Linked DNA regions of Homo sapiens. The protein of the gene in region 1 purifies or fractionates together with the protein of each later gene. This does not show direct contact. Each region holds a gene or a part of one and is shown in the gene's direction. Other genes may lie near its edges.

Region 1 (3,626 bases):
AGGAGGTGTGATAGAGCCTTTGATCTTCAGGATGCACGGTTTCTGTTCTGCCCCCTCAGGGATGTGGGAATCTCCCAGACTTGTTTCCTGTGCCCATCATCTCTGCCTTTGAGTGTGGGACTCCAGGCCAGCTCCTTTTCTGTGAAGCCCTTTGCCTGTAGAGCCAGCCTTGGTTGGACCTATTGCCAGGAATGTTTCAGCTGCAGTTGAAGAGCCTGACAAGTGAAGTTGTAAACACAGTGTGGTTATGGGGAGAGGGCATATAAATTCCCCATATTTGTGTTCAGTTCCAGCTTTTGTAGATGGCACTTTAGTGATTGCTTTTATTACATTAGTTAAGATGTCTGAGAGACCATCTCCTATCTTTTATTTCATTCATATCCTCCGCCCTTTTTGTCCTAGAGTGAGAGTTTGGAAGGTGTCCAAATTTAATGTAGACATTATCTTTTGGCTCTGAAGAAGCAAACATGACTAGAGACGCACCTTGCTGCAGTGTCCAGAAGCGGCCTGTGCGTTCCCTTCAGTACTGCAGCGCCACCCAGTGGAAGGACACTCTTGGCTCGTTTGGGCTCAAGGCACCGCAGCCTGTCAGCCAACATTGCCTTGCATTTGTACCTTATTGATCTTTGCCCATGGAAGTCTCAAAGATCTTTCGTTGGTTGTTTCTCTGAGCTTTGTTACTGAAATGAGCCTCGTGGGGAGCATCAGAGAAGGCCAGGAAGAATGGTGTGTTTCCCTAGACTCTGTAACCACCTCTCTGTCTTTTTCCTTCCTGAGAAACGTCCATCTCTCTCCCTTACTATTCCCACTTTCATTCAATCAACCTGCACTTCATATCTAGATTTCTAGAAAAGCTTCCTAGCTTATCTCCCTGCTTCATATCTCTCCCTTCTTTACCTTCATTTCATCCTGTTGGCTGCTGCCACCAAATCTGTCTAGAATCCTGCTTTACAGGATCATGTAAATGCTCAAAGATGTAATGTAGTTCTTTGTTCCTGCTTTCTCTTTCAGTATTAAACTCTCCTTTGATATTATGTGGCTTTTATTTCAGTGCCATACATGTTATTGTTTTCAACCTAGAAACCTTTATCCCTGCTTATCTGAAACTTCCCAACTTCCCTGTTCTTTAAGACTTTTTTTTTTTTTTTTTTTTTTTTTGAGACAGAGTCTCGCTCTGTCGCCCAGGCTGGAGGGCAGTGGCACGATCTCAGCTCACTGCAAGCTCCAACTCCCGGGTTCACGCCATTCTCCTGCCTCAGCCTTCCAAGTAGCTGGGACTACAGGTGCCCGCCACCGTGCCCGGCTAATTTTTTTGTATTTTTAGTAGAGACAGGGTTTCACCATGTTAGCCGGGATGGTCTTGATCTCCTGACCTCATGATCCACCCACCTCAGCCTCCCAAAGTGTTGGGATTACAGGCGTGAGCCACTGCGCCCGGGCAAGACCTTTTTTTAAAAAAAAAAAAAAAAAAACTTCCATTCTTTCTTCCTCCAGTCTGTTCTCACATAACAGAGTAGTTTTGGTTTTTAATTTTTTTTGGTTGTTTGCTGTTTTTTGTTTTTTAAGGTGAGTTCTCACTATGTTTCTCAGACTGGTCTCGAACTCCTGGCCTCAAGCCATCTTCCCGCCTCAGCCTCTCAAATAGCTGGGCTTACAGGCATGAGCCACCACACCTGGCCAGGATTTGGTTGTTTAAATATAAATCTGATCACCCCCCTGCTTAGAACCCTTCTGCTTTCTATTACCCCTCATTTAAAATGTAAACTCTTCACCTTGGTTTATGAGAACTGGTTCTTGCCTTCCCCTTGAACCTCATTAAATGGTGATTTCTTGCTAAGCTCCAGCCCGAGTGGTCTCCTCTCAGCTTCTAATTTTGTGCTCTTTCCTGCCCTTTTCCTGGGCCTTCTCAGCTCTCCACCCCCACCACTCTTGACTCAGGTGGTGTCCTTCTTCCTCAAGTCTTGACAATTCCCGGGCCCTTCAGTCCCTGAGCAGTCTACTTCTGTGTCTGTCACCACATCTTGTCTTTTCCCCTCATTGCATTTATTGCAGTTTATATATATGCTACTTTTACTTGTTCATTTCTGTCTCCCCTACCAGGCTGTAAATGAGGGCAGAAACCTTGTTTGTTTTATTCACCATCATGTACCAAGTGCTTGGCACATAGTGGGCCTTCATTAAATGTTTGTTGAATAAAAGAGGGAAGAAGGCAAGCCAACCTTAGCTACAATCCTACCTTTTGATAAAATGTTCCTTTTGACAATATACACGGATTATTATTTGTACTTTGTTTTTCCATGTGTTTTGCTTTTATCCACTGGCATTTTTAGCTCCTTGAAGACATATCATGTGTGAGATAACTTCCTTCACATCTCCCATGGTCCCTAGCAAAATGCTAGGCCTGTAGTAGTCAAGGTGCTCAATAAATATTTGTTTGGGTGGTTTGTGAGCCTTGCTGCCAAGTCCTGCCTTTGGGTCGACATAGTATGGAAGTATTTGAGAGAGAGAACCTTTCCACTCCCACTGCCAGGATTTTGTATTGCCATCGGGTGCCAAATAAATGCTCATATTTATTACTGATGTGTGCTCAATATCTGTTTCTGTAGATACTCAGTCCTCTGAAGCCCACAGATTTCGTTTCCTTAGCCCCTTACACTGCAGCATTCCTTACCACCTCACAAGGCATACCCAGACCTGAAAACCCTTCTTATTTTGCTGCTGTGATCCTGTAAATATATGCAGGTGTGGGCCCATCTCAGTTTGCGTAGTCCTGGGATTTCTCACAGATGAAATGGAAGTTATTAGCAAACAGTGCTGGTTCTTGATTATTTAGACTATGAGATGTAGGCTGCCATAACAGATTGGGCTGGAATAGAAGGATGGGAGAGTGAAGATAGTAAAATTCCATTTCTTACCTGGTTGCATTTAAGGTCTTCTAGAGTGGGCATAGATTGTAAGAGAATTCTAGTGCAGCATAGAAGAGATCAAAGCAATGAATTTGTGTAAGTTGGGATATTTTGGGGGTGCATTGTATCTAAAGGATATGCCTGAGAGGTAAGTGCAGGTGCAGATGGGCCATGGAATTTGGCAAGAGATGGAATGTTCTGTAGGAACTTTGTACAGAAGTTTTGGTAGGAAACAAAACTTTTTTTTTTAAATACGGGATTTCACCATGTTGGCCAGGCTGGTCTCTAACTCCTGGCCTCAAGTGATCAGCCCGCTTCGGCCTCCCAAAGTGCTAGGATTATAGGTATGAGCCACCTATAACAAACCAGAAACAAAACTTTTTTGTTTGGTAGGAAACAGCTGTGGGAGCTGGAAATATTGTTGAGTCATACAGAGAAGGGTATGGCAGTCTAGGAAGAGCAGAAGGGGATTGAGGTGAGCTGAAGCACCTCGGCAGATAGAGCAGAATTTGGTACAGAACACTGGAGACAAAAGGGCATGAAAAATGGACTGAAACTGGTTGGTTGTACTGCAAGAAAAACAACCATGGGATAGCCTCAAGGGAAGGATACAAAATCTAGGACAGGCGAAGAAATTATGGAAATAGTGGAAGTAAGATAAATACCCATTTTCAGGATAGGAAGCATTTTCAGTGGTGTGATATGTTTGAGAATTACAGA
Region 2 (4,328 bases), on another chromosome or scaffold:
TTGGACAGGTATGGGGTGGGTTGAGGGGGCTGGAGGGGAGTCTGTCTGCCTGTCACTCTGGCCCCTCCGACACCTTCTCCAGAGTTCCTGGGTCCAGGCTCCAACACGTAGGCCCTTCTGGGTCTAACCTGTTGCTCGCTCCTTCCTCACTCAGCTTTCCTGTGACCCCTCAAGGCTGCTCAGTGACCCTGGCCTGTGGCGTCCGCCTGCAGTTCCCAGCGGGAGCCACCGCCACCCCCATCACCATCCGCTATCGGCTGCTGCTGCCGGAGCCAGGCCTCGTCCCCCTGGGTCCTCATGACGCCCTGCTCAGCCATGTGCTGGAGCTGCAGCCCCATGGGGTGGCCTTCCAGCAGGCATGGACAGGGCGTGGCGGGGGCAGTGTGTGGGCCAGGGCATGGCAGGGGCAGTGTGCGGGCCCGGGCATGGCTCCAGTGCTCACACCATCCTTGTCTGGCAGGATGTGGGGCTGTGGCTGCTCTTCACCCCACCGCAGGCCCGGCGCTGCCGTGAAGTGGTGGTCAGGACCCGGAATGACAACAGCTGGGGTGACCTGGAGACCTACCTGGAGGAAGAGGCACCCCAGGTGAGGGCCACCCAGGCCTGCCGGTGGCGAGTGGAGAGCTGCTGCCCTGAGCCGTGCACCTCTGCCCAGAGCCTCACCCTGGCACCTTCCACCCTGCCCCGTCCCTCCTGGATCCTGCTTCCCTATGTCCCTGGCACCTTCCACCCCACCCCGTCCCTCCTGGATCCTGCTTCCCTGTGTCCCTGGCAACTTCCACCCCACCCCGTCCCTCCTGGATCCTGCTCCCTGTGTCCCTGGCACCTTCCACCCCGCCCCGTCTCTCCTGGATCCTGCTCCCTGTGTCCCTGACTGGCTGTGCCCTGACCCAGGCTCCTGTGACCTCCTCTCTCCCCCATCCCAGCGGCTCTGGGCTCACTGCCAGGTGCCCCACTTCTCCTGGTTCCTTGTGGTTTCCCGCCCTGTGTCCAATGCCTGCCTGGTGCCACCGGAGGGGACACTGCTGTGCTCCTCGGGTCATCCTGGGGTCAAAGTCATCTTCCCCCCTGGGGCCACTGAGGAGCCTCGTCGAGTCTCCATGCAGGTATGGCCAGGACAGCACTGAGGGTGGCAGGCCGCGCCTCAGCCCACAGGCAGGTGCTCAGGGGGCCTGTCTGCCCCAGGTGGTGCGCATGGCTGGCCGAGAGCTGCAGGCCCTCCTGGGAGAACCAGAGGCTGCAGTGAGCCCCCTGCTGTGCCTGTCACAGAGCGGTCCCCCCAGCTTCCTCCAACCGGTCACCGTGCAGCTGCCTCTGCCCTCTGGCATCACAGGTGAGAGGCAGCCATGGGGCATACCTGGACCTGTGGCCATAGGGTGGAGGGGGTCTCCGGCCAGGAGGCCTCAGCTCGCTGCCCCTCCCATCCCCAGGCCTCAGTCTGGACCGCTCCCGCCTGCACCTGTTGTACTGGGCCCCTCCTGCAGCCACCTGGGATGACATCACAGCTCAGGTGGTCCTGGAGCTCACCCACCTGTACGCACGCTTCCAGGTCACACACTTCTCCTGGTCAGTGCCCCCCAGCTTTCTCAGCCCCCCTCCCCCAGTCTGTACAGCCCTCCTCACCCCCAGCTCTCCCAGGTACTGGCTCTGGTACACCACCAAGAACTGTGTGGGAGGCCTGGCTCGGAAGGCCTGGGAGCGGCTGCGGCTGCACCGTGTGAACCTCATCGCTCTGCAGCGGCGCCGGGACCCTGAGCAGGTCCTGCTGCAGTGCCTGCCCCGAAACAAGGTGGGGGCACGGGCCGGAGGGCAGCAGGGTGGTGACCAGAGGGCTGGGGTGGGGTGCAGAGCTTTGGGTCCTGAGCTGCACGGGCTTCCCCGCAGGTGGACGCCACCCTTCGGCGGCTGCTGGAGCGGTACCGGGGCCCCGAGCCCTCTGACACGGTGGAGATGTTCGAGGGCGAAGAGTTCTTTGCGGCCTTCGAGCGCGGCATCGACGTGGATGCTGGTAGGGATGCTGGTGGATGCTCCCTGCCCTGGAGGGGGAGCCTTACCGTCCTCCCCGAGCCCTCCTTGCTCAGCCCACCCCTGTCCCCTAGACCGCCCTGACTGTGTGGAGGGCAGAATCTGCTTTGTCTTCTACTCGCACCTGAAGAATGTGAAGGAGGTATACGTGACCACCACTCTGGACCGGGAGGCTCAGGCTGTGCGGGGCCAGGTGGGCGAGGGGAGTGGGTGAGGGGAGAGGCCCCCCAGGCCGCTTGGGCAGAGGACCGAACTCCGAACCCCATTCGATGCCCCTTCAGGTGTCCTTCTACCGTGGCGCGGTGCCTGTGCGGGTGCCCGAGGAGGCTGAGGCTGCCCGGCAGAGGAAGGGCGCAGACGCCCTGTGGATGGCCACTCTGCCCATCAAGCTGCCGGTGGGACTGAGGGACAGCAGAGGGGCGGGGCAGGACCGAGGCCCAGGGGTGACCAGGGTGACATGGTGGAGTTGGGGGTGGAGCCCAGGGCTTAATGCACTTTTTCCTTCCAACAGAGACTTCGAGGGTCCGAGGGGCCACGGCGGGGGGCTGGCCTCTCCTTGGCACCCTTGAATCTGGGAGATGCCGAGACCGGCTTTCTGACGCAGAGCAACCTGCTGAGTGTGGCTGGGCGTCTGGGTCTGGACTGGCCAGCCGTGGCCCTGCACCTGGGGGTGTCCTACCGGGAGGTGCAGCGCATCCGGCACGAGTTCCGGTGAGGCTCCCACTGCCCGCTGGCTGCCAGCCCCAGGGCTGAGCCCTGGCTGCCTGGAGGGCCCACCTGATTCTGACAGAAGTTTCTTCCAGGGGAGGTGGGGGAAGGGCAAACACCAGGCTGGAAAGGAAAGGTCTGGCCGCACCTGGCCCCAGGAGCCGGGAACTCCCCCACACTCCGAGGCAGAGTGTGGTGGGGGGTCCTGGGCAGGTGGACAGGACCCCTCTGTCGCCCATCCTCTGCCTGCAGGGATGATCTGGATGAGCAGATCCGTCACATGCTCTTCTCCTGGGCTGAGCGCCAGGCTGGGCAGCCAGGGGCTGTGGGGCTCCTGGTGCAGGCCCTGGAGCAGAGTGACCGGCAGGACGTGGCTGAAGAGGTGCGCGCAGTCTTGGAGCTCGGCCGCCGCAAGTACCAGGACAGCATCCGACGCATGGGCTTGGCCCCCAAGGACCCCGCTCTGCCTGGCTCCTCGGCTCCACAGCCCCCAGAGCCTGCCCAGGCCTAGGCCCCACAGACTTTTAGGCTGGCCCAGATATTCCCCAGTGGATGGGCAGAGCCCCCACCTTCAAGTCTCTCCAGTGTGTGGGGACGGGTCCCTGTGAGCAACAAAACTGCACTGTTTCTTTCACCTCAGAGCTTGATTTATTTGTTGGATGGAGAAGCCGTTGGAGGGCGGAGGGTGGTGGGGTAGAGGCCTGGCCCCTGCGGGGAGGGAGGCCTGTGTGCACAGGTGCCCCACATCCTGGTCCTGTCCTCTCCCACTGTGCCTGGGGCCTCCTGTGGGTCCTCATCTTCCTGGGAGGGAGGAGCTGTGCTACAAAGTAACCCACATGGGCTACTTTTTTTTTTTTTTTAAATGGAGTTTCTGTCACCCAGGCTGGAGTGCAGTGGCATGATCTCAGCTCACTGCAACCTCTGCCTCCCAGGTTCAAGCGATTCTGCGTCACCCTCTCAAGTAGCTGGGACTAGGGCACTTGCCACCACGCTGGCTAATTTTTGTATTTTTAGTAGACGGGGTTTCACCATGTTGGCCAGGCTGGTCTCGAACTCCTGACCTTAAGTGATCCGCCTGCCTCGGCCTCCAAAAGTGCTGGGATTGCAGGTGTGAGCCACTGCGCCCAGCCCCAAGTGGGGTGCTTTGGATACAAAGTCGCTGTTCGGCGGGTGGGGTTGTGCCTCCACTTCTCCATTGCGCTGGCCCAGCAGTTCCACGGATCACCTGTGTCTGCCCTGGAGGCCACGCCTCCCCCAGGGCACCCTCATCCACCGGCGCTCTGCCACCTGCCCGCGCCCCGCGGGTCCTTGTGCCTGCAGGGGCCTGAGGCCCGGAAACCAAGAAAGGACCTTGGGGACGCGCGGCCCGGCCTCTGCGCGCAGAACTGCCACCCTGCCCGGGGGAACCCACGGCCAGGGGGCGGGTGGGCGCGTGGCTGTGGCCTGGCTGGGCGCAGTAGCCTCGACGGCCAGGAGGGGGAGCCGAAGCCCGGAGGAGGCCGAGGGCGGAGCGCGCGCGGCGCCGAGCGGACGCGCCTCCCCGCCTAGGTGCTGGCCGAGCGCGGGGCGGGCAGGCGAGCGCGGCGGCGGCGGCG

Evidence for each region. The genes of interacting proteins can lie anywhere in the genome.
Region 2: the proteins of CASP2 (region 1) and PIDD1 purify together in Homo sapiens (affinity purification with western blotting; 5 studies listed by BioGRID and IntAct, with this or other methods). This does not show direct contact.

What each region holds. Positions count from the first base shown.
Region 1 is NC_000007.14:143,305,117-143,308,742, forward strand, and holds the end of CASP2 (caspase-2 isoform 1 preproprotein), read left to right. Parts: 3' UTR 1-2,580; downstream 2,581-3,626. UniProt on the Homo sapiens protein: Is a regulator of the cascade of caspases responsible for apoptosis execution. Might function by either activating some proteins required for cell death or inactivating proteins necessary for cell survival.
Region 2 is NC_000011.10:798,223-802,550, reverse strand, and holds the end of PIDD1 (p53-induced death domain-containing protein 1), read left to right. Parts: coding exon 1-8; intron 9-154; coding exon 155-356; intron 357-460; coding exon 461-586; intron 587-926; coding exon 927-1,106; intron 1,107-1,185; coding exon 1,186-1,333; intron 1,334-1,430; coding exon 1,431-1,566; coding exon of another isoform or gene 1,567-1,638; coding exon 1,639-1,789; intron 1,790-1,884; coding exon 1,885-2,008; intron 2,009-2,099; coding exon 2,100-2,218; intron 2,219-2,306; coding exon 2,307-2,420; intron 2,421-2,536; coding exon 2,537-2,736; intron 2,737-2,985; coding exon 2,986-3,244; 3' UTR 3,245-3,367; downstream 3,368-4,328. Other genes in the region: PANO1 (proapoptotic nucleolar protein 1), read right to left, coding at 4,278-4,328. UniProt on the Homo sapiens protein: Component of the DNA damage/stress response pathway that functions downstream of p53/TP53 and can either promote cell survival or apoptosis.